Linked DNA regions of Homo sapiens. The protein of the gene in region 2 purifies or fractionates together with the protein of the main gene of each other region. This does not show direct contact. Each region holds a gene or a part of one and is shown on either strand. Other genes may lie near its edges.

What was found.
Region 1: the proteins of OPRL1 (region 2) and TUBGCP4 purify together in Homo sapiens (affinity purification with mass spectrometry; one large-scale study listed by BioGRID and IntAct). This does not show direct contact.
Region 3: the proteins of OPRL1 (region 2) and ATP1A3 purify together in Homo sapiens (affinity purification with mass spectrometry; one large-scale study listed by BioGRID and IntAct). This does not show direct contact.
Region 4: the proteins of OPRL1 (region 2) and CLN3 purify together in Homo sapiens (affinity purification with mass spectrometry; one large-scale study listed by BioGRID and IntAct). This does not show direct contact.
Region 5: the proteins of OPRL1 (region 2) and TMEM164 purify together in Homo sapiens (affinity purification with mass spectrometry; one large-scale study listed by BioGRID and IntAct). This does not show direct contact.
Region 6: the proteins of OPRL1 (region 2) and PTDSS2 purify together in Homo sapiens (affinity purification with mass spectrometry; one large-scale study listed by BioGRID and IntAct). This does not show direct contact.
Region 7: the proteins of OPRL1 (region 2) and ADIPOR1 purify together in Homo sapiens (affinity purification with mass spectrometry; one large-scale study listed by BioGRID and IntAct). This does not show direct contact.

What each region holds. Positions count from the first base shown.
Region 1 is NC_000015.10:43,377,601-43,381,100, reverse strand, and holds part of TUBGCP4 (gamma-tubulin complex component 4), read right to left. Parts: intron 3,255-3,500; coding exon 3,198-3,254; intron 1,018-3,197; coding exon 938-1,017; intron 1-937. UniProt on the Homo sapiens protein: Component of the gamma-tubulin ring complex (gTuRC) which mediates microtubule nucleation.
Region 2 is NC_000020.11:64,086,582-64,090,081, forward strand, and holds part of OPRL1 (nociceptin receptor), read left to right. Parts: coding exon of another isoform or gene 1-18; intron 19-3,043; exon of another isoform or gene 3,044-3,178; intron 3,179-3,500.
Region 3 is NC_000019.10:41,980,731-41,984,230, reverse strand, and holds part of ATP1A3 (sodium/potassium-transporting ATPase subunit alpha-3), read left to right. Parts: intron 1-2,124; coding exon 2,125-2,323; intron 2,324-2,399; coding exon 2,400-2,509; intron 2,510-2,594; coding exon 2,595-2,729; intron 2,730-3,500. UniProt on the Homo sapiens protein: This is the catalytic component of the active enzyme, which catalyzes the hydrolysis of ATP coupled with the exchange of sodium and potassium ions across the plasma membrane.
Region 4 is NC_000016.10:28,479,427-28,482,074, forward strand, and holds part of CLN3 (battenin), read right to left. Parts: intron 1-2,648.
Region 5 is NC_000023.11:110,009,614-110,013,113, forward strand, and holds part of TMEM164 (transmembrane protein 164), read left to right. Parts: intron 1-3,500.
Region 6 is NC_000011.10:456,779-460,278, forward strand, and holds part of PTDSS2 (phosphatidylserine synthase 2), read left to right. Parts: intron 1-3,408; coding exon 3,409-3,500. UniProt on the Homo sapiens protein: Catalyzes a base-exchange reaction in which the polar head group of phosphatidylethanolamine (PE) or phosphatidylcholine (PC) is replaced by L-serine. Catalyzes the conversion of phosphatatidylethanolamine and does not act on phosphatidylcholine.
Region 7 is NC_000001.11:202,948,313-202,951,812, reverse strand, and holds part of ADIPOR1 (adiponectin receptor protein 1), read left to right. Parts: intron 1-648; 5' UTR 649-742; coding exon 743-883; intron 884-3,392; coding exon 3,393-3,500. UniProt on the Homo sapiens protein: Receptor for ADIPOQ, an essential hormone secreted by adipocytes that regulates glucose and lipid metabolism. Required for normal glucose and fat homeostasis and for maintaining a normal body weight.

The DNA.
Region 1 (3,500 bases), on a different chromosome or scaffold from region 2:
GTGCGGTGGCTCACACCTGTAATCTCAACACTTTGGGAGGCCAAGATGTGAATATCGGTTGAGCCTAGGAGTTCGAGACCAGCCTGGGCAACATAGCAAAGCCTTCTCTCTACAAAAAATTAAAATAAAATAAGAAAAAAAGAACAAAACAGAGTTGTGAGTGGCCTCAGGGATCATCTATTATAATTTTTCAATGAATGTCACAGTTTTTTTAAAATAAGGAAAATGGATAAATGGAAAGCTCAAACAGGCAGTCTTTGATTATACTCTACATGTTTTCATATTGTTGTAATCACAAGATAAATACAATTTTGTATCATTTGTCAGTACATATTTATATAAAATAGTTTACATGTTATAGTACCTACACTTTTAGTGGCTTTATAGTCTATCAAGTGAATATATCATCATTTAAATTTTTTTCTACTGTTGGTAATTTTCTAATTTCCTGATATAGTAGACAACATTGCAATGAACACGTTTGTGCATATAGTTATTTTCTTCTATTAAATAGTTTTGTTAGGATAAAATTCCCAAGAGTGGCATTATGGGATTATAAAGCATAAACATTTTTAAGGACCTTCAATTTGAAAATACCAGCTACTCAAATACACATGTTTAGACACAGCAAGCAACATCTGGCACATGTAATGGAATTCCTGCAAGGATAACAGGATCTAAACATTTAAAAAGATTGCCTCAAGGTCATCCAGGCACCTAAATCCTGGCTTTGTCACTCAACACTCTATAGCCCTTTTTGCAAGGCCTGAGCCATAATAAAGGTTACATGGGCTCCTCTGCTCATGGAGCTTTTTCTATCCTGGTTATAACCTTCCCAAGAGGGAAACCTGAAATGACCTGAAAATAAAACATGTGAGAAGTCAAATAATTTGACCACCCACCTCCACCACCAATTCCCAGTTAAGCCATGACTTACTTTTCCAGTGCACTTCGAACAGGAGGCAACCCCCCACAGCTGTGTTTGTAGACTGTTTCCAGGATTTGACAACCATGAATCTGTGGAAAATACGGCCTTGTCAAACTGGATTCCATTCTAAGAGTCCATGCAAGACACATTCTTATTCCATATTCAACCAAGAGGGCACAATCTAGGAGAGACTGGGGATAAACTTTCTCCTAAGATTTACACATAGTGGTTCTCAAAGAGGGACCTCTCTCCCATCAGCAGCATGACCTGGAGACTCATCAGACATGCAAACTCTTGGTTAGAACCCAGCACTCAGTGTTTCCACAAGCCCTCCAGGTGATTCTAATGCACAGTAAAGTGTGAGAACCACTGCACTTAAAGCAACCAGAATCATTTAGAGTTGGAACACCAAAGCCAAGGAAAGCTTTTTATTTCAAGTTAAGGCCCAATTCAGTCTACTTCTAAGGTATATACTTTTTCAAAAATCCTCTGCCTCTATGTTCTTCAGACTTTTTTTTTTTTTTTTTTTTTTGAGACGGAGTCTTGCTCTGTCGCCCACGCTGGAGTGCAGTGGTGCAATCTTGGCTCACTACAAGCTCTGCCTCCTGGGTTCACACCATTCTCCTGCCTCAGCCTCCCGAGTAGTGCGACACAGGCACCCGCCACCACGCCTGGCTAATTTTTTTTGTATTTTTAGTAGAGACAGGGTTTCACTGTGTTAGCCAGGATGGACTCAATCTCCTGACCTCGTGGTCCGCCCGCCTCGGCCTCCCGAAGTGCTGGGATTACAGGCGTGAGCCACCATGCCCGGTCCCCAGACTTTTATTTTTACCACTTTGAGGTATAATTTACAATGAAATTCACCCATTTTAAGCATACTAATAAACAATTTTTAGTAAATTTCAAACACTGGGCAACCATTACCACAATCCAGTTTTATAACATTTCCACTACTCCAAAAAGCGCCTTTGTGCCTGTCTGCAATCAATCTCCATTCTCAACCCAAACCTAGAATTTTGACCACCTGATTTTAAAAACTCTGAAGAGCCTTGGTACACTAGTTTCTCTACCACTATTCTGGCAGGGAGGAAGATTCAGCCATCTGCAATCCCCCTATTTTCCACTCTCCTTCCTATAGCCAGCGGAAGTTGAAGGCCAACTGAGACGTGCAGCTAGGCCTGGCTCCCTTATGCTGTCCTCATTAACTCTATTTGCCTAGAATGTCTCCTTTTATTTTGGGAGATAGTTTAATCTAGTGGTTAAGAGCACACTCTTTGGAGCCAGATAGAGCTGGGATATAAACCCATTTACTACTATCTGTGTGACACTGGGCACACCCCTTAACCAACTTAGCCCTTTAGTGGATTGTGTGTGATAATGTATTTAAAGCACTTAGCACAGTGCCTAGTACACAGCCAGTGACAGTAAAAGCTGGATGTTGTTATTTGATGAGGACAATCAGCTTTGAAGGGCCAATGAGCACCCACCACTGGCTTTGCTGGCACAGCATGAACATAGCAGAGCACTGTTTCTACACTTACACAGTTAAAAATGATGCAGCAATGTGGCAGATTAACTGGTTTACTAGTTACATTAATGAAAATGAACACCCCTAATAAGCTAAGGCACAAATAAAGAGCTTAAAAAAAATGACGACTTGAGCTAAAGATGTTTAATCCATTTGTCCACTTGGTCCAATTGTGGACCAATTCAATAGGACAGCAGATTCTTCTAATATGAAATCTCAAAGCATTTATTCCTCAGACTTATTAACTCTGCCCAGAAAGACATTCTCCTAACTTCTCAATACACCTGATAAAAACTTGTGATAAGAATAGGCATATTTATTAAACATCTGGCTTTCACTCACTGATCTCAAAATTCTCAGAAAACTGCCAGCACACTAACCATAAACCTATTACCTTCTTCCTAAGAATTAACTTTCTGCTTCACACCCAACAGTTCTAAAACCTTACTGCAGGTTCCTCTCACCTGCAAACATCCACAGCACTTTTTTTCTTACCCCAACAACATTCTTGGGAACATCTATGAACATTTCCTCTACCTTCTGGACCAGGAGGTGTTTAAAGGCAGAGTCATACTTTTGCATTCCTGACACTTAACATGATAACCAAGCAGATATTGTTAAATGAATGAATAAATAAAAACTACTAAAAACTAGGGTCTTCGAAAAATAATGTAAAGCAAAATTAATTAGTAATATTCCCTCAGTGCTTAGCAAAGCAAAAGGAATAAGGAAAGTTCTCACCTTTTGACTTTTAATTTGTTCTACTACAACCATCACAGAGGGAAAAAGAAGCTGGAACTGCAAAGTAGAGAATAATTAGAAGGGTATGTAATCAAATGTAAGGGAAAAAAAATCAACTTGGGAAATGCTTTTGTTTCTAAATAGTTCAACTTAAGATAAAATGGCAATACCACAGAACAGTCAAGATCCAGCATCCTAAGGCAATTTGATGTGGAGGTTCGCTGCAGATAGGAAGAGGATGGCAGAGAGAGGCAGTTTCTTTTTTTTCTTTTTTCTTTTTTTTTTTTTTTTTGAGACAGGGTC
Region 2 (3,500 bases):
AAACTTCAAGTCAAATTAGTAAGCTTTATTAATGACTACAAAATTTAACATGATATTGAGAAGCTACAACTCAATTTTTTTTGTCATTGTATATAGATTTTGTAAAGTTAAAATCACAAGGACAAAGTAATTTATTTTGATGAAACTCAGAATTGTTAAAAATTCTTTCACTTTTTTAATAGCACAAATGTGCGGCCTGGTGACTGGCTTCCCTGGGGGATGGCTGCTCTGTGAGGGGCTGCCAGACCCTCTGCCTTGATTCCTGTTCTTGGCCAGCCCAGGGTGGTGAGCCTGTGGAAGGAGGAGGGTAGACTGTGCCTGCCCTGGGGGTGGGAGTGGGGAGGACAAAAGACAGTGTTCCAGCTGCCGTCTGGCGTTTGCTGATTCTGAGTCACTGGATGAGAGTGAGGTGTGTGTATTTGCCTGCTGAGTGGGTGTGAATCTCACCCCGGAACCCAGGCCTGCCCAAATACCCAGGAGCTCCAAGAGCAGCCTGTGTCAGGCTTTAATCTGTGGACACAAGCTCTGTGCTGTCATTCGCGTGTCATCGTTCGTGTCTTGGGCTATCCCTAGTATCCTCGCACACAAGCTCTGTGCTGTCATTCGCGTGTCATCGTTCGTGTCTTGGGCTATCCCTAGTATCCTCGCACACAAGCTCTGTGCTGTCATTCGCGTGTCATCGTTCGTGTCTTGGGCTATCCCTAGTATCCTCGCACACAAGCTCTGTGCTGTCATTCGCGTGTCATCGTTCGTGTCTTGGGCTATCCCTAGTATCCTCGCACACAAGCTCTGTGCTGTCATTCGCGTGTCATCGTTCGTGTCTTGGGCTATCCCTAGTATCCTCGCACACAAGCTCTGTGCTGTCATTCGCGTGTCATCGTTCGTGTCTTGGGCTATCCCTAGTATCCTCGCACACAAGCTCTGTGCTGTCATTCGCGTGTCATCGTTCGTGTCTTGGGCTATCCCTAGTATCCTCGCACACAAGCTCTGTGCTGTCATTCGCGTGTCATCGTTCGTGTCTTGGGCTATCCCTAGTATCCTCGCACACAAGCTCTGTGCTGTCATTCGCGTGTCATCGTTCGTGTCTTGGGCTATCCCTAGTATCCTTGCATATTGTTTCGCCTGCCCAGAACATGTGTGTTTGAGGTTGTCTTGCTCTCTCATATAACATGTGCCTCTTGCTATCTCTTGTGTAACATATATGTTCTATATAGGACCCTGATTCTACCTTCCCCCTTCTGGAGGGACCACCCCACCCTTGGCAGGTTGGGGGAGGGCAGGACTCTATTAGGGGTCTAGAGATACCTGGGCCATTTCATCTGCACCACCAGTTCTCCTCCGTGGGAGCGTTTCTGGGTCCAGGGCTGGGCCCCTGCCAACCCCAGGGAGCACTGTCAGTGTCACACCTGGCCAATCCCCTAGCCAGGTGACCAGGCCTGTCTTTCACTCTAAGACTGCGCCTGTGAGGGGCCAGGTGCCTGCCTCCTGCGGGGCTCTGCTGACCACACTCTCAGAGGATATCTGCTGAGACCAGAGCTCACAGGCCTAGCCTGGCAGCCGTATTACTGAATAATGGCCAAGTTAGGAAGGTTCCCAGGGCTGGGGGTCCTGGGGTAGGCTTCTTGGAGGAGGTAGGACTGGAGCTGGCTGGGGTGGGGCAGGATCCATGCAAGGGGCCAGAATCTGCACATGGGCCAGGATCTGTGCATTGAGGCCAGGATCTCTGCATGGGGGCAGGAGTCTCTGCGGGGAGGACTTTTAGGGGGTAACAGGATCTGTGCAGCGTGCAGGATCTTTGCAGTGGGGCCAGGATCTGTGCAGTGGGTAGGATCTACATTGGGAGTCAGTGTCTGTTCAAGGGAGTCGGGGGACAGGACCCGTCCAGGGAGGGCAGGATCTGTACAGAGGGACCAAGATCTACGCACGGGGATAGCATCTATGTGGGGTGGGGGCACGGTCTGTGCCAGGTTTTGGGGGCACTAGATCTTTGCAGGTGTGGCCAGGATCTGTGCAAGGGGTAGGATCTGTGCAGAGTGGCCAGGATCTGTGCAGAGTGGCCAGGATCTGTGCAGGGAGGCCAGGATCTGTGCAGAGTGGCCAGGATCTGTGCAGGGAGGCCAGGGTCTGTGCAGAGTGGCCAGGATCTGTGCAAGGGGTAGGATCTGTGCAGAGTGGCCAGGATCTGTGCAGGGAGGGTAGGATCTGTGCAGAGTGGCCAGGATCTGTGCAGAGTGGCCAGGATCTGTGCAGGGAGGGCAGGATCTGTGCAGGGAGGGCAGGGTCTGTGCAGAGTGGCCAGGGTCTGTGCAGAGTGGCCAGGGTCTGTGCAGAGTGGCCAGGATCTGTGCAAGGGGTAGGATCTGTGCAGAGTGGCCAGGGTCTTTGCAAGGGGGCAGGATCTTTGCAGGGGGGACAGGTTGTGTGCAGGCAGGTGCGCAGGGTCAATGCAGGGGGCAAGGTCTGTACCGTGGGCTAGGGGTCTATGTGGGTGGGGGGCAGGTTCTGCGCAGGGGGCCTAGGCTGTTCAGCATGCCAGGGTCTGTGCTGGGGGTTTGCCGCAGGCACAAGGGAGGGAGAAGCTGTCCTGGGTTCTATGGTTATGAACATGTCAGGGCAGAATGACACAGAACACACAAGAAGTTCAAGGGAACACATTATGAGATTGTGAACACCTGGACTGGGGAGGCCACGGCCTTCTGCTGGACCCTGAACGGCTCCCACAGAGGGAGTTGAGGTCTCTATTGACTCCTGAAAGGCCAGGCAAGGCAGAGCTGGGAGCTGCCTTGGTGGGGGTGCAGGTGGCTGGTTGCTATTGCTGGGTGAGAAGGCTTGGGGTCAAAAGAGGTGGGGGTCAGGGAGCTAGGTCTGACCTCGTCCCCCCTCCTTTCTTCCTGTCCTCCTATCCCCAGCGTGTTTTCCTCCCTCTTCTCCCATCCTTCCTTACCCATCCTCTCTCTTGATCTCTCCATACTTCCTCCCCACTCCTTTCCCTTTCCTCCTCCTCCCCATCCCAACCCCTCATCCTCCCTGTCTCTGCCTGTAGGGAGGAAGCTGTGGGGTGACCCAGGTGGAAGACAGACATGCGAAGGGAGAGGTGTCTGCAGTAGCAGGGATGAGGTGCTTGTGTCCCACACTCTGCCCTGGCCTCTGACACTGGTTCCTGGTCCGGGGACATCAGGTTGGGCTCCTTTGTCCTTCCCTTACGAGGTCTCTGCTCTGCCCACCCTCAGTGCCTACAGTGCCCAGGCTGGGTCCCAGGCTGGGAGGCAGGCTCAGGAAGCTCGGGTAGGAGGGTCTAGGGTCTCCTGCTCAGACGTTGGTGAGCCCAGCTGGGGCGGAGGGCTGCAGGAGTCCGAGCCTGCCTGGATTCCTGCCCCCTCTCGGCTCCTGAGGTCAGGGGGCTCACCCTCGAGCTTTGCCTGGAGAGCGTGTTTGTGCATGTGTGTGTCCTCTGGGTGTCGGAGGGCCTTGGTCTGTGTCTGCCTGTTCCCAAAGGTGTC
Region 3 (3,500 bases), on a different chromosome or scaffold from region 2:
ATAAATAAATAAAATAAAATAATAAGCCTGGCGCAGTGGCTCACGCCTTTAATCCCAACAGTTTGGGAGGCTGAGGCAGGAGGACTGCTTGAGGTCAGGAGTTTGAGACAAGCCTGGACAACATAGTAAGAACCCATCTCTACCAAAAAATGTGAAGGCTGGGCGCAGTGGCTCATGCCTGTAGTCCCAAGACTTTGGGAGGCCGAGGCGGGTGGATCACCTGAGGTCAGGAGTTCGAGACCAGACTGGCCAACATGGCAAAACCCCATCTCTACTAAAAGTATAAAAATTAGCCAGGCGTGGTGATGGGTGCCTGGAATCCCAGCTACTCAGGAGGCTGAGACAGGAGAATAGCTTGAGCCTAGGAGGCAGAGCTTGCAGTGAGCCGAGATCGTGCCACCTCACTCCAGCCTGGGCGACAAAAGCGAGATTCTGTCTCAAAAAAAAAAAAAAAAAAAAAAAAATTTTTTTAAATTAGCCAGGCGTGGTGGTACATGTCTGTAGTTCCAGCTATTTGGGAGGCTGACCCGGGAGGTTGAGGCTGTAGTGGGCCATGATTGAACCACTGCACTCTAGCCTGTGTGACAGAGGGAGACTCCATCTCAAGAAAATAATAATAATAATAATTATTATAATAATAATAATTATTATTATTATTTTTAAAAATTTTTTCTCTGGCTGCTTTGCTGCCAGCTTCACCCCAGAAGTCCATTCTCTGTGAGGTTCCGCCTGACAGCTGTGAGCATATTGACTAAATGCTGTCTTCAAGGTGCATGGCAGGGACTATCTTAGAAATACCATTCTCCTCTTTCATTCTTTGACTTAATGTTTTATGTGAAGTTTTCCATATTAGGGCCGGGCAGGGTGGCTCACGCCTGTAATCCCAGCACTTTGGGAATCCGAGGTGGGTGGATCACTTGAGGTCAGGAGTTCAAGACCAGCCTGGCCAACATGGCAAAACCCCATCTCTACTAAAAATACAAAAATTAGCCAGGCGTGATGGTGGGCGCCTGTAATCCCAGCTACTTGGGAGGCTGAGGCACAAGAATTGCTTGAACCTGGGAGGTGGAGGTTGCAGTGAGCTGAGATCGAGCCACTGCACTCCAGCCTGGACGACAGAGCAAGACTGTGTCTCAAAAAAAAAAAAAGTTTACTGTTTTCCATATTAGCAATGTTGAATGCTACCCTATGTCAAATGGATTTTTATACGCAAAGGATTAAGCATATTGTGAGCACATAGTCTGATGATTTGGGGCAAACTGAACAGAATCACGTCAGCTGCAACGAGACTGCGTCTCCCTGAAGCCCCCTCAAGACCTTATTTAGCCCCTGCCCCCCAACCCAAGGGTAACCCCTGATCTGGCTGCTAACAGCATAGATTAACTTTGCCTGTGTTCAAACTTCCTATTAACGGAATAATTCAGTATGAACTCATTTCTGGCTCTTTTTGGCTGAACATGTTTTTGACGTTCACCCATGCAGGTGCAGGCAGCAGTAATGTATTTGTTTTTATCAATGTTAGTATTCCATTGTCCACAATTTATCTTTTCTGCTGTTAGTGGACATTTGAGTAGTTTGCAGTTTTGGACAATTTTTTTTTTTTTTGAGTTGGAGTCTCACTCTGTTGCCCAGGCTGGAGTGCAGTGTCACGATTTCGGATCACTGCAACCTCCACCTCCTGGGTTCAAGGGGTTCTCGTGCCTCAGCTTCCCAAGTAGCTGGGATGACAGGAGTGTACCATCATGCCCTGCTAATTTCTGTATTTTTAGTAGGGATGGGGTTTCACCATGTTAGCCAGGCTGGTCTCGAACTCCTGATCTCAAGTGATGCGCCTACCTCGGCCTCCCAAAGTGCTGGGATTACAGGCGTGAGCCACTGCACCTGGCTGTTTTGCACTATTATGCATGTGGCTGCTATGAGCATTCTAGTCCCTGTCTTTGGGTGTCTCTGCCCTGTTTCTATTGGTCTGAATTGGGGGTGGCATTGCTGGGTGCTGCCTCATTCTTTTCCAGGCCCTCAGGATTCTCTGGGGGCTGGGCAGCTGGGCTGTGGCCCTCGTGTCGCTCATCCAACCCTGCTGCCGGGCTTGTCCCTGTAACTTGCCTGCCCTTGCTCGTCCTCCAGGTGTGTCTGACGCTGACCGCCAAGCGCATGGCCCGGAAGAACTGCCTGGTGAAGAACCTGGAGGCTGTAGAAACCCTGGGCTCCACGTCCACCATCTGCTCAGATAAGACAGGGACCCTCACTCAGAACCGCATGACAGTCGCCCACATGTGGTTTGACAACCAGATCCACGAGGCTGACACCACTGAGGACCAGTCAGGTGAGCGCAGGCCCCGGGTGAGGACCATGGGGGCCTGGCTCCAGGAGTCCCTGGCCCTCACACATGCCTCCCCCAGGGACCTCATTTGACAAGAGTTCGCACACCTGGGTGGCCCTGTCTCACATCGCTGGGCTCTGCAATCGCGCTGTCTTCAAGGGTGGTCAGGACAACATCCCTGTGCTCAAGGTGGGTTCAGCTACTGGCCTCACCTCGGCCCTGCCTGTGTCCTCCCCTCAGCTGTCCCTGTTCTGACAACCCTTTCTCCTTGCAGAGGGATGTGGCTGGGGATGCGTCTGAGTCTGCCCTGCTCAAGTGCATCGAGCTGTCCTCTGGCTCCGTGAAGCTGATGCGTGAACGCAACAAGAAAGTGGCTGAGATTCCCTTCAATTCCACCAACAAATACCAGGTACTCTGGGCTTTCCGGGAGAGCCAGCCTGGACCTCAGGTTCCTTATGACGCCTGTAAAGAGGTGTCATAGAGCCTTGATTTTCCCGTCTGTAAAATGGGAATGATAATACCCGCCTGGTGGGGAGAGGAACAGGGAGAGCTTGAGAGTGGGAGCCGGATCTCTGTTGGAGTGAGACGCTGAGGAGTAAAGATCTTCCTGCAGGCCAGGCGCGGTGGCTCACACCTTTAACACCAGAACTTTGGGAGGCTGAGGTGGGGGGATCACTTGAGGCCAGGAGTTCGAGACGAGCCTGGGCAAGATGGCAAAACCCCATCTGTACGAAATTTTTTTTTTAATTAGCCAGGTGTGGTGGTATGTGCCTGTGGTCTCAGCGATTTGGGAGTCTGAGGCAGGAGGATTGCCTGAGCCGGGGAGGTTGGGGCTGCAGAGAGCCTACATCACGCACTGTACTCCAGCCTGGGTGACAGAGCAAGACCCTGACTCAAAAAAAAAAAAAAAGTTTTCCTACAGCAGAGAGTGGGAACAAGCAGGAGACCTCTTGGGGCAGAGCAGCAACTTTAAATTATTCAGCAAACTTTTTTTTTTTTTGAGACAGAGTTTCGCTCTGTCACCCAGGCTGGAGTGCAGTGGCGCGATCTCAGCTCACTGCAAGCTCCACCTCCCGGGTTCACACCATTCTCCTGCCTCAGCCTCCAGAATAGCTGGGACTACAGGCGCCCGCCACCATGCCCAGCTAATTTTTTGTATTTTTAGTAGAGACGGGGTTTC
Region 4 (2,648 bases), on a different chromosome or scaffold from region 2:
AAATACAAAAATTAGCCAGGTGTGGTGGCACGTGCCTGTAATCCCAGCTACGCAGGAGGCTGAGGCAGAAGAATCGCCTGAACCTGGGAGGCGGAGGTTGCAGTGAGCCAAGATCACGCCATTGTACTCTAGCCTGAGCTACAAGAGCAAAACTCTGTCTCTAAAAAACAAAACAAAACAAAACAAAACAAAAAATTTGCTGGGCGTGGTGGCGCACCTGTAATCCCAGCTACTCGGAAGGCTGAGGCTTGAGAATCGCTTGAATCTGGGAGGCAGGGGTTGCAGTGAGCCAAGATTGCACCGCTACATTCCAGCCTGGGCAACAGAGCGAGACTCCATCTCAAAAAACAAAACAAAACAAAAAACATTATAGCTAAAAACATGTAGCTTAAAACCATAAGCTACATGTTTCAGTGGTATCTACAAGCACCCTGAGTTATAAATTTGGGGTTTTGTGGGTACAAACCCTGGGCTTGCAGCACTGCTCAGATAAATAAGGAAGGAGGCTGGAGGATATTTACATGCTTTTGCCATAATATGAAAGTGTAATCTTTTTTTTTGAGATAGGGTCTCACCCAGGCTGGGGTACAGTGGCATGATTATGGCTCACTGCAGCCTGGAACTCCTGGGCTAAAGCGATCCTCCTGCCTCAGCCTCCCGAGTAGCTGGGATTACAGGTGAATGTCACCACACCCTGTTGTTGTTTTTTGTAGAGATGAGGTCTCGTGATGTTACCCAGGCTGCTCTCTCAAACTTCTGGGCTCAAGCAATTCTCCCACCTGGCTTATTTTTTTTTTTAATTTTTTGTAGAGGTGGGGGGTCTCACTATGTTGTCCAGTCTGGTCTCAAGCTCCTGGCTTCGAGTGATCCTCCCACCCTAGCCTCCAAAAGCATTGGGATTACAGGTGTGAGCCACAACACCTAGCCTAAAGTATAATCTCTATTTCTGTATTTTGCTATCACAGAATTGAGTTCCTAAGTCTTTTTTTTTGGAGATGGAGTCTCGCTCTGTGGCCCAGGCTGGAGTACAGTACTGCAATCTCGGCTCACTGCAACCTCCATATCCGGAGTTCAAGCAATTCTCCTGCCTCAGCCTAGCGAGTAGCTGAGATGACAGGCAGGTGCCACCACGCCCAACTAATTTTTGCATTTTTAATAGAGACGGGGTTTCACTGTGTTGGCCAGACTGGTCTCAAACTCCTGATCCTGACCTCAGGTGATTCACCTGCCTTGGCCTCCCAAAGTGCTGGGATTACAGGTGTGAGCCACCAGGACTGGCCAAGTTCCTAAATTTCAAAGGCAGAAGACTTTCCTGTCACAGTTGACAGTTTATTGTAACAGTTACCTGCAGGGGCTGTGGATTTGTAACCTTGAAACAATGAATGCTGGTTATATGAAACTCCTTTTATTAGACTGTTGTAAGGAAGGGTGTTTGCGCCCTTAAAGCTGTAAACTACTGTTTGCCAAGGGCAGTTGAATTTGCTCACCACCCTCAAGATAAATAACCCACTGACTTCAAAGTCACCAATTCTATTATAATTAACTATCTAGAATAAAAGAACTGTACATTTTCTTATAGTTAGAAACATTATTTGAAAGCCTGTCTCTTTGCCTGAGGTAAATGACCTATGATCATGCCACTGTACTCCAGCCTAGGCGACAGAGGAAGGTTCCGACTTTTCCTTTCTTTTTTCTTTTTCTGGGAGACAGGGTCTCGCTCTATTGCCTAGGCTGGAGTGCAGTGGCATGACCTTGGTTACTGCAGCCTTGACCTCATGGGTTCAAGTGATCCTCCCACCTCAGCTTCCCAGTAGCTAAGACTACAGGTGTGCGCCACTGCACCTGGCTAATTTTTGTAGAGATGTGATTGTGCCATGTTGCCCAGGCTGGACTTGAACTACCAAGCTCAAATGATCCACCTGCCTCAGCCTCCCATAGTGCTGGGATTACAGGCATGAGCCACCTGGCCCGGCCCAATCCCAATGCTTAAAACACACACACACACACACACACACACACACACACACGCACACACACACACACACACACTACAAAATCTTGTTCTTCGATTCTTTCTCTCATCTCTATTTCTTACAACTACCCTGAAAAATAGGTATTGGCCACACCCAATTTATACATGAGGAAATTGAGGCTCAGAGAGGTTCTGAGACCTGCCCTAAGTCACACAGTGGCTGAGTACTGAAGCTCAGTTTTGCTTGGCTCCTGAGGCTATACATTTTACATGGAGCTCTGCTGGACTTTGGTTCCCTGTGCTAAGAAATGATAGTGTACAATTTACACTTCCCTGTAATCCCAGCACTTTGGGAGGCTGAGGCCGGCAGATCACCTGAGGTCAAGAGTTCAAGACCAGCCAATATGGCAAAATCCCATCTCTACTAAAAATACAAAAATTAGCCAGGTATGGTGGCGGGCGCCTGTAATCCCAGCTACTCAGGAGACTGAGGCAGGAGAGTCACTTGAACCCGGGAGGCAGAGGTTGCAGTAAGCCAAGATTGCGCTACTGCACTCCAGCCTGGACGACAGAGCGAGACTCTGTCTCAAAAAAAAAAAAAAAAATTTACACTTCCCACTGATAGTGGGAAGCAGGGGGTTTGGGGAAGCTGGGAGCCAAGCTGGGAGCCAAGGTG
Region 5 (3,500 bases), on a different chromosome or scaffold from region 2:
CCTGGATAATGGTGACTGAATGATTGATGGAACTGACTTTTTGCTTTCCTTTTTTCTTTCTCCACTGGTGGCCCTATGTTCCTATTAAGAGAATCTTCCAGCCAGGCATGGTGGCACACGCCTGTAATCCCAGACTTTGGGAGGCTGAGGCAGGCAGATCACGAGGTCAGGAGATTGAGACCATCTTGGCTAACACGGTGAAACCCTCTCTCTACTAAAAATACAAAAAATTAGCCAGGTGTGGTGGCACGCGCCTGTAGTCCCAGCTACTCGGGAGGCTGAGGCAGGAGAATCGCTTGAACCGAGGAGGCAGAGGTTGCAGTGAGCCGAGATCCCGCCACTGCACTCCAGCCTGGGTGACAGAGCAAGACTCTGTCTCAAAAAAAAAAAAAAAATCTTTCTGCCTGTTTTTTGAAATAGCCACAGGAGTGAGGCAATCTCAGCTCCTGCTCACACATCTTTTTGTAGAATTTCCATCACAAAGAATGGTTATTAGAATCTCTACTCTTGGCCCAAAGTGTCTGTTTGCTTTTCTCCCAATCAGGAAATCACACTGTTGGATCTTGATCTTAATCTCTTGGACATGCCAACTTTCTTGCTTCTTAATATCATATAAATAAAAAATGTTATTAAGCCAGAGACTTACTTTTCCTTTTTCTCCCCTCTTCTCTTTTTCAGTGGATACCTCATTGTTATGCCTCATTGAAATGAAGAGCTAGGTTTCTCTGCTTCTCCTGGTCTTTCATATATTTTGTTAAATTGAGAATGTCTTGTCTCACGTGCTCCTCTCCTGCCAGGAACTGGCTGAGTGAATGCGAAGAGACTCTGGATGTGGAAAGCGGTGATTGTCAAACTTTATTTGTAAAAGAGTCTCTTGGAAGCTTGTTATAATGCGGATACCTTGTTCTCTACATGGTGATTCTGAGCAGGTCTAGGGTGAGGATTGGAATCTGCATTTATACTCGCTCTTGGGTGATTCTAATGCTGGTCAGCCTTGGACCCCACTTTTAGAGACATTATCTAGTGGCTGAAGTAATTAGGTGGGAAGTTGGTTTCAGTGCCCATCCTAATTGAGCATGAGTCTGGGTGATCTGTGGGCAAGGCATTAAGTGTTCTGGCACCATCTCAATACCTGTTAAATAGTGTGATTCAGATTAGAGGATGAGGGCCCCAAGTTATTGTGAAGAGGGTTTTAAGGTAGCTGTAGAGTTCCACTGGCTTGTTTGGTGACTGTTAGTTATGTCAATGGAGTATTTCAACCAGGCCACCTTTATTACCTTCCAGTGATATATGGAATATATCCCTCCAGTCCTTCTATATCCCCCCGCTTTCCAGTCTCTAAGATCTGCAGGGACTAACAAGAGGGAATGTTGACACATGGTTTGTTGTATGCTAACTCTCTGTTTGCAGGACTGTTGTTTTAGATGTTCGTGGGAGTTTATTCTTTCTTGCGTTCACTCAACAGATATTTATCGAATGCCTATTGTGTGCCAAACATTGGTGCCAGGTATTGGAGATTCAAAGAGAAATAAGAAGCAGTCATTGTTGATGTACTTTCAAAAACAAAACCAAAAACAAAAAAAAAAGAAGAAGTAGCCTTTGCCTTCATTTTGTTCACAGTTTTGATGAGATGGACAAGGAAATAGATCAACTAAATTACAACATTACATGTATAGTAACAGATTTGAACAAAGCATAGGGGACAGGGGTCTTTTTTTTTCCTAATGCAATTAAGGAAAGCTTCCTAGAAGAGGTGGCATTTGAGCTGGCTCATGTTAGCTCCATGAAAGCAAGGACCCTTGGTTTTTGTTCTCTTAGTGCCTAGAACAGGGACTGGCTCTAGTAGGTGCTCAATAAATGTATTTGAATGCGTAGGAATTCATTGGGTGATGGAGGAAGGAAAGCAATTCTAGGCATAAGAAACAATAAGTGCAAAGGCTATGTGCTATCTCCCCATTTCTCCTATTTAATATCTATTCACTTACCCAGGGTTCAAGTAGACAGGAAGAGGATGGATGTGGAGAGCAGTGATTATCAAACTTTATTTGTGAAAGAATCCCTTGGAAGCTTGTTATAATGTAGATGTCTAGCTCTCTTCATAGCAATTCTGAGCAGGTCTAGGATGAGGATGGGAATCTGCATTTATAAGAAACTCCCAGATGATTCTAATGCCTGTGAGCCTTTGACCTCACTTTGAGAGATCCTACCATAAGTTCGCAGAGTTGCTTCCTCCTTCACAGAAAAGTGTCTCAACTGTAACCTGGAATTATTTGCTTATTATTATCAGGGGTAGATGTCTTACTTCTCCCTTGGCCAACTAAGTGAAACTCTAGGAATGCTCTGTCATTTCTAGGCTGTTGATAAACGACCTGCAGATGCCCTTGAATCCTCGATAGGGGATGAGATAGAAAATTGTGTTCTCTGTGCTGTCCCAAGGAGGGCCCACACTGTCAACAACAGAGGCACACAACATTGGGGTAAGTGAACAGACATTAAATGTGAGAAATAAGGAGATAGCAGGCATCCCACCTGCAACCAGTAGATGCTTTTTAGTGGCTTGTGGATGGTTGCTGCTCTAAAGTCCACAGCAGCACTAATGAAGTGTGGTGCCATCTTTCTACCTTTCTTTTTCATATCTCTTCTTCCCTGTTTCCAAGTCTGTCCACCTGATCCACCCCACACAAGTTCCAAAACAATCCTTTCTATAATTCAAAATGCCCATCTCATCAGAGGAGATGATAGCCATGGGGGATTAGGAAGAAAGCAGTTTTATTTCAGAGGTTCATACTGAAATGTGAGTGGACAGACTCCACTGGGCGTCAGGGAGAGGATGAGTTTTAAAAAAGGGCCTTGTTACCCTAACATTATATCTAATTGGTAGACTGTGTCTAGTGTTTTTAAGCAGATGTCCTTTCTCATGTGCCTTGCTCAGGTTTTGGCCTCTTCTCTCCCGCTAAAGCCCCTGATCAGGAGAACTGGAGTTATCCATGCCTTGCCACCCTACATGCTGACCCCCAGGGTTTCATATTAATGTAAATCTCCCTCCACAGTGCTTGGATGCAGCAGTTAATCTGAAGGCCTGGCGAGGACCCCTCTTCTGGGCACCAGTCAGTCCTCTGTGTTTACTCAGCTCTTTCCTGGCTACACAGGGCAGCGCTTGCACATCTGTCAGTTCATGGGCATCAAGGCACTTGGACCTGTTACCAGCATGAGATCCTGAAGGGAAGGGTTTGGGGGATCTCTTGATTGGTTTTGGTTCCCGTCTAGTAGCTGCTGGAGGAAATGGCAGAGGGAGGAAGGATAATATGAGTTTTATTCTGAGCTGGGTGGTGTTGAGGGAAGGGAATGGATTGCAGGAGCCAGGAGGTCAGACAGGATTGGCCTGTTTGGCGAAAACAGTGCAAGCTCTGCCCTGTGGCCATGTGTTTAGGTGGGTAGGAGAGGGAGGAGTGAGATCATCTGGAGGGGAAAGGAAGCATGGTACCATCCTAATTCTAGCC
Region 6 (3,500 bases), on a different chromosome or scaffold from region 2:
GTCTCTCAGTACTGAAGGGCCCCACGGTGTGGAGCTCAGCAGGAAGGCTGAGGTTCCCTGCGGTTTCCTCATGGCTTAGGACTCAAATGCAAATGTATCTAAAGAAAAAGGTGGTTGATAGTCACAATGAAACTTTTATTTACCTCTGGTTGTCTTAAATGCCTAGTATTGTAAAATATGGCAGAAGAATTCACTTTCATGCCTGTAATCCCAACACTTTGGGAGGCCAAGGTGGGCAGATCCCTTGAGTTCATGAGTTTGAGACCAGCCTGGAAAACATGGCAAGACCCCGTCTCTACAAAAAATACAAAAAAATCCAACCTGACCCACATGGCAAGACCCCATCTGCACAAAAAATACAGAAAGTTCCAGCCTGGAGCCTCCACCTGCAGTCCTGCAGCTCCACCCTGGCTCTTCATGAAATCGGCTAAGTCCAGGTGTGGGTGCGTTCAGTGCAGCACCCACGTGCAGGTGACACGCCCATGCACCGCCACAACCACGCTCACACCAGAACATTCCATCATCCGGAAGGCCCGTGTCTCCGCTCCAGTCTGCTTTTCGTGGATGCAAACTCATTTCCTTGAGTCGTGTGTGGGTGACAGCAGATGGGAGGTTTCTTTTGTGCCTGGCGTCTGTAGCGTGTTTTTCTTTTTCTTTTTTTATCTTTTGAGACGGGATCTCACGATGTTCATGATGTTGCCCCGGCTGGTCTTGAGCTCCTGGCCCAAAACAGTCCTCCTGCCTGGGCCTCCCAAGGGGCGTGTCTTTGAGATCTATCCACGTTGAGGTCGTTGCCAGCAGCACATTCCTCTGAGTGCTGAGCCATGCTCCGCTGGTCGGAGGGACCACAGTGTTTCCTCCACTGATAGAGTTTTGGTTTGTTTCCCGTTTTAGGTTATTATACCTGAAACATCTGCATGTAAGTCTTTGACTGGACCTGTGTTTTCATCTGTCTCAGGCCCACGTTTGGGAGTGTGTCTTTGACTGGACCTGTGTTTTCATCTGTCTCAGGCCCACGTTTGGGAGTATGTGGCTGGCTGGATAGCAGACGTAGCATAGGCCTCACTTTTCTGTGCCGTTTTGCAGTCCCACCTGCAGTGCGTGAGCATCTTGCTCCGAGACCTCACCAGCACTCTGCATTGTGATGTTCTTAATTTCAGCCGTTCCAGCAGATGTGCACTGATGCTGTGTCGTGGCTTGGATTTGTGATGCTTTTAATTTCAGCCGTTCCAGCGGATGTGTACTGATGTGTCCTGGCTTGGATTTGCTTTCACGGTGACCAGTGCTGCTCCTCGTTTGTTCATGTGCTTATTGGCCATTTGTATGTTTTCCTTGTGAAGTGTCTGTTCAATTTTTTGCCTATTTTTTCATTAAATTGTTTATTGAGCTGTATGAGTTCTTTATAAATTCTGGATAAAAAGTATTTTTTTTCTTTTTTTTTTTTGAGATTGAGTCTCGCTCTGTCGCCCAGGCTGGAGTGCAGTGGCGCGATCTCGGCTCACTGCAGGCTCCGCCTCCCGGGTTCACGCCATTCTCCTGCCTCAGCCTCCCGAGTAGCTGGGACTACAGGCGCCCACCCACCACACCCGGCTAATTTTTTGTATTTTTAGTAGAGATGGGGTTTCACCGTGTTAGCCAGGATGGTCTCGATCTCCTGACCTCGTGATCCGCCCGCCTCGGCCTCCCAAAGTGCTGGGATTATAGGCGTGAGCCACCGCGCCTGGCCTGATTTTTTTTTTTTTTTTTTTTTTTGAGACAGATCTTGCTCTGTCTCCCAGGCTAGAGTGCAGTGGCACAATCATCCTAGCGCACTGCAGCCTCAACCTGGGCTTAAGCGAATCTGCCACCTCCCGAGTAGCTGGGACTACAGGTGCCTGCCACCACGCCTGGCTAATTTTTTATAGAGATGGGGTCTCACTGTGTTACCCAGTCTGGTCCTGAACGCCTGGGCTCAAGCAATCCTCTTGTCTCAGCCTCCCAAAGCGTTGGGACTACAGACGCGTGCAGCCTACAAAGTTTTATCAGATATATGTATTGTGAATATTTTCTCCCAGTTTGTGACTTGCCTTTTCATTTCTTTAGGGCACAAATAGTTTACATTTCATGGAGGCAAGTCCTGGGCAACATGCTTTAAGTGCATTGTTCACTTAATTTTCATGATGTCCTTGGAAGTCAGAAGCTTCCCCATTTAGATATGAGGAAACTGAGGCACGGAGGGGTGCATCATCTCTCCAAGGACACACTCCAGTGGATGTAGGACCTGGGTTAGACGTGAGGACACACTCCGGTGAATGTAGGACCTGGGTTAGACGTGAGGGGACACTCCGGTGGATGTCGGACCTGGGTTAGACGTGAGGACACACTCCGGTGGATGTCGGACCTGGGTTAGACGTGAGGACACACTCCGGTGGATGTCGGACCTGGGTTAGACGTGAGGACACACTCCGGTGGATGTCGGACCTGGGTTAGACGTGAGGACACACTCCGGTGGATGTCGGACCTGGGTTAGACGTGAGGACACACTCCGGTGGATGTCGGACCTGGGTTAGACGTGAGGACACACTCCGGTGGATGTAGGACCTGGGTTAGACGTGAGGACACACTCTGGTGGATGTAGGACCTGGGTTAGACATGAGGAAACTGAGGCACAGAGGGGTGCATCATCTCTCCGAGGACACACTCCGATGGATGTAGGAACTAGGTCTCTGCCTCCATTTGCAGATGGTCATGCAGAGGGGGTCTCAGGCGAGTGTCTGGCACAGGCAGTGGCTGGGGTCTGGTGGCCCCCAGTTCTGATACTAGGCTGGTTGTGGGCTTTTCCACCAGCGATGGGACAGGACAAGACTGCAAAGGGAGCGCCCTGCCTCCTCCTCCCACGTCTGGGCTCTGACAGGCCAGAGGACGGGCAGACCCACGGCTCGTGGCTCACTCCAGCTAGCAGCGGTCACTCTGCAGGCCTCTGCTCAGGCCCCTTCTCAGCTCTTGGTGTCTTGGGCTGCTGCACTGAATCTCAGATGTTATTTCATGAACCCAAAGAGTTGTTGTCTCGGCTTGTCTTGCGCAGTGAAAAGCGCGTGTTTTACGTGTCCAGTTGCTCTTAATAGCAGATACCTGCCCTGGACGCCAGTGGCAGCATGTGCCCTCTGAGCAGCGGCCTTCAGCTTCCCAGGAACACGGGGCTCTTCCTGTCCAGCCTCCTGGGGGCTGGTCTCAGCCCTGACTGGCCAGCAGACGCAGGGTCATCTCGGAGTTACCCAGCTAGGGACTCGCAGCCAGTTGCTGGTTGGGAGTTGGAGAGTGGAGTTTAAGCCCTCTCCTTGACGTAGAGAGGATTTGGGGCCTGTTACGTGAGTATTTAGCAATGCTGCCCAAGCTCTGACACCATGCTTATGCGTTTTTGGATTTCAGGCGAGCCCACACCTTAACCGTGCTCTTCATCCTCACCTGTACGCTTGGCTATGTGACGCTGCTGGAGGAAACACCTCAGGACACGGCCTACA
Region 7 (3,500 bases), on a different chromosome or scaffold from region 2:
AGGACAGATTGTGATGAAAGCTTGTTATCCCAGGGTTGAACTCAGGCTATAATCCTGTAATAGAATTAGTAGACTTCGCAGAGAAATTAACCACTAGGCATCTGTCCCACAACCAAGTTCCTTTTGTATGTATGACACATTTATCAGAGCATTTGTAGATAAGGTCTAACTGAGTTCAGTTGGCATTTAATTCATTTCTAAGCCTGGATGATCTTGTAGTAATTGCAGCCAGATGTTGGCTTTATATTTTTATTCCTCGGTCTCAGAGCTAGGCCTTTCTTGGGCAGAGTGAGCTTTGGGAGTGATAGATGAGATTCTTCTCACTAAATGGTTCCATACCTGTGGGAGGGAGTTGAGGGTGGGTAGCTGTTTTTCTATGGTGACAGTTTGGTGCAGTAACCATAGATCATATGAAAGCAAGCAACTAGGTGTTACATTTTCAGCCTTACCTATAAGATTAGTGAGGTTCTGGGTAAAGGTTGACATTAAAGAGGGAGGACAGGAATAGATTTCATTTAAGCAATTAACTGGCCTTTAGAATTGGGGACAGGATATGAGTTGATTAGCTTCTTATTCAGTATTAGAGTATAGAAATGAAACTGTAAGAGGAATAAATTGTCAATCCTTCATGTTTGTATTTTCTTTTAGTGTCTACCATCAGAGGGAGATCTCTGCCCCCTGGGGCTGAGAGACCCCAACCTTTCCCCAAGCTGAAGCTGCAGGGTATTGAGGTACCAGCCAGATGTCTTCCCACAAAGGATCTGTGGTGGCACAGGGGAATGGGGCTCCTGCCAGTAACAGGGAAGCTGACACGGTGGAACTGGCTGAACTGGGACCCCTGCTAGAAGAGAAGGGCAAACGGGTAATCGCCAACCCACCCAAAGTAAGTCATCTTCCCAGGAGTCATCCCCTTGTTCAGTTTCTCTCCTTAGAACTCTGTCATTTTCTCTTTTTTAAGAGCTCACCGTCCAAAAGGAGGAACATTGCATCCTGGAAATGTCTCTATCCAAGTCCCTATGATACTGTTATAAACATCTTGTTGTCTGCTTTCCCCATTGTAAGCTTTTGGGAATGCACTCATCTTTGTAACACCAGTGCTTAGCACAAGGCCTGCAGTCCAATAAATAATCAGTAAATATCTGAATGAATGAAGGAAGCAGTCAATTAGGATTAGGTTTGACTTCATATAACACACAAAAATCCTTACAGTTTTGACAGGACAGAAGTCTCTCAAGCAAAAGAATTTCAGAAGTAACCAATCCAGGGCTGATATGGAGGATCCACCACTGTCAGGCACCTGTGTTGCTCTCCCATCACTCTTAATATGTGCCCATCATACCCACATTCTACCCCCCATGAAAGGGAAACGAGAAGAAAGGCCCTCTCTTTCCCTTTTATTTTTATTGAGATAAGATCTCGCCATGTTGCCTAGGCTGATCTTAAACTCCTAGGCTCAAGTGATCCTCCTGCCTCAGCCTCCCAAAGTGTTGGAATTACAGGTATGAGCCACTGTGCCCGGCCAACTCTTTGCCTTTTAAAGGGACTATCAGGGCCGGGCACGGTGGCTCACACCTGTAATCCCAACACTTTGAGAGGCCGAGGCAGGTGGATCACCTGAGATCAGGAGTTCGAGACCAGCCTGGCCAACATAGTGAAGCCCCCTCTCTACTAAAAACACAAAAATTAGCTGGGTGTGGTGGCAGTCGCCTGTAATCCCAGCTACTCGGGAGGCTGAGGCAGGAGAATCGCTTGAATCTGGGAGGCAGAGGTTGCAGTGAGCCGAGATCGTGCCATTGCACTCCAGCCTGGGCAACGAGTGAAACCCCCTCTCAGAAAAAACAAAAATAAATAAAGGGACTATCAGGAAGTACCTCATAAGACTTCGGCCAGAACTTACTTACATAACTATATTCAGCTGCAGTGGAGGTTAGAAAGTGCAGCCTGAGTAAAATTGCAGTAACATTGCCACCCTGAACAAAACCGTGGGCTTTGTTACTTAGGAAGAGAGAGAATGGATGTTAGGGTAGACTGGCTGGAAGCTGTAGCACAAAATCTAAGATGGACCATGTGTTTACTAGTGACCATCAGCAACAGGAGAGAAATAGCCCAGAAAAGGAGTTGAACTGCCAGGCTTTCTATAGCCATGATTCGGAGCCTTGGGATAGAGAGAGAGAAAGTTCTCTCCCTTTCACAGGCAAGTGCTCTCCTGGGTGTGTTTTTTTTTTTTTTTTTTGGAGACAGAGTCTCGCTGTCGCCCTGGCTGGAGTGCAGTGGCACGTTCTCGGCTCACTGCAGGCTCCGCCCTCCAGGGTTCATGCCATTCTCCTGCCTCAGCCTCCCGAGTAGCTGGGACTACAGGTGCCCGCCACCTCGCCCGGCTAATTTTTTGTATTTTTAGTAGAGACAGGGTTTCACCGTGTTAGCCAGGATGGTCTCGATCTCCTGACCTCGTGATCCGCCCGCCTCGGCCTCCCAAAGTGCTGGGATTACAGGCGTGAGCCACCGCGCCCGGCCCTCTGGGTGCGCTTTTTTAGGCCCTGGAGTCAGTACCGCTGTTTTCCATGGAACCAGTTCTGAGGCCCTGGTACTCCTGGGAGCTGCTGTAGATACAAAGTTTCAATCATGACAGCATCCCTAGAGTCAGTGAACAGGGAACTCTGAACAGAATTATTGTTATGGAACTCTCTGAGACTCTGTGTCTTTTTCGTTGTTTTGAAAACGTAGGCTGGGCATGGTGGCTCAGCCTGTAATCCCAGCACTTTGGGAGGCCGAGGCAGGAGGATCACGTGAGGTCAGGAGATTGAGAACAGCCTGGCCAACATGGTGAAACCCCATCTCTACTAAAAATACAAAAATTAGTCAGGCATGGTGGTGGGCGCCTGTAATCCCAGCTACTTGGAGGCCGAGGCATGAGAATTGCTTGAACCCGGGAGGCGGAGGTTGCAGTGAACAGAGATCGCACCACTGTACTCCAGCCTGGGTGACAGAGGGATATTCCATTTCAAAAAAAAAAAAAGAAAGAAAGAAAATGTAATGGCTTAGAAAAGAGAACTCTTTGGGAAACTGAGGAAAGTTAAGAACCACTATCCTAAAGAAAAGGATGTCATTCAGTACCTAGAGCTGGTGTATTCCCCCAATGCTAGTCTCTGTGACAGTCCTTCTTTTACGCACTGCATAGAATGTTCACTCCAGCATTTACGAAGTATTAATAAATTTCTAACTAGTGTTGTAAACTCAGTGTGTATGCTTTTGGAGAAGAGACCACAAGACCCTCTGTAGGAAAGAGGCTGGGCAGAAGGCATTAGGTTTGGGTTTTTCTGGGTCTCTCTGCTCTGGAATAGTACAATTTATGAGATGACTCCCTGGATTGTTGTGGGTTTTTTCCCCCATAGGCTGAAGAAGAGCAAACATGCCCAGTGCCCCAGGAAGAAGAGGAGGAGGTGCGGGTACTGACACTTCCCCTGCAAGCCCACCACGCCATGGAGAAGATGGAAGAGTTT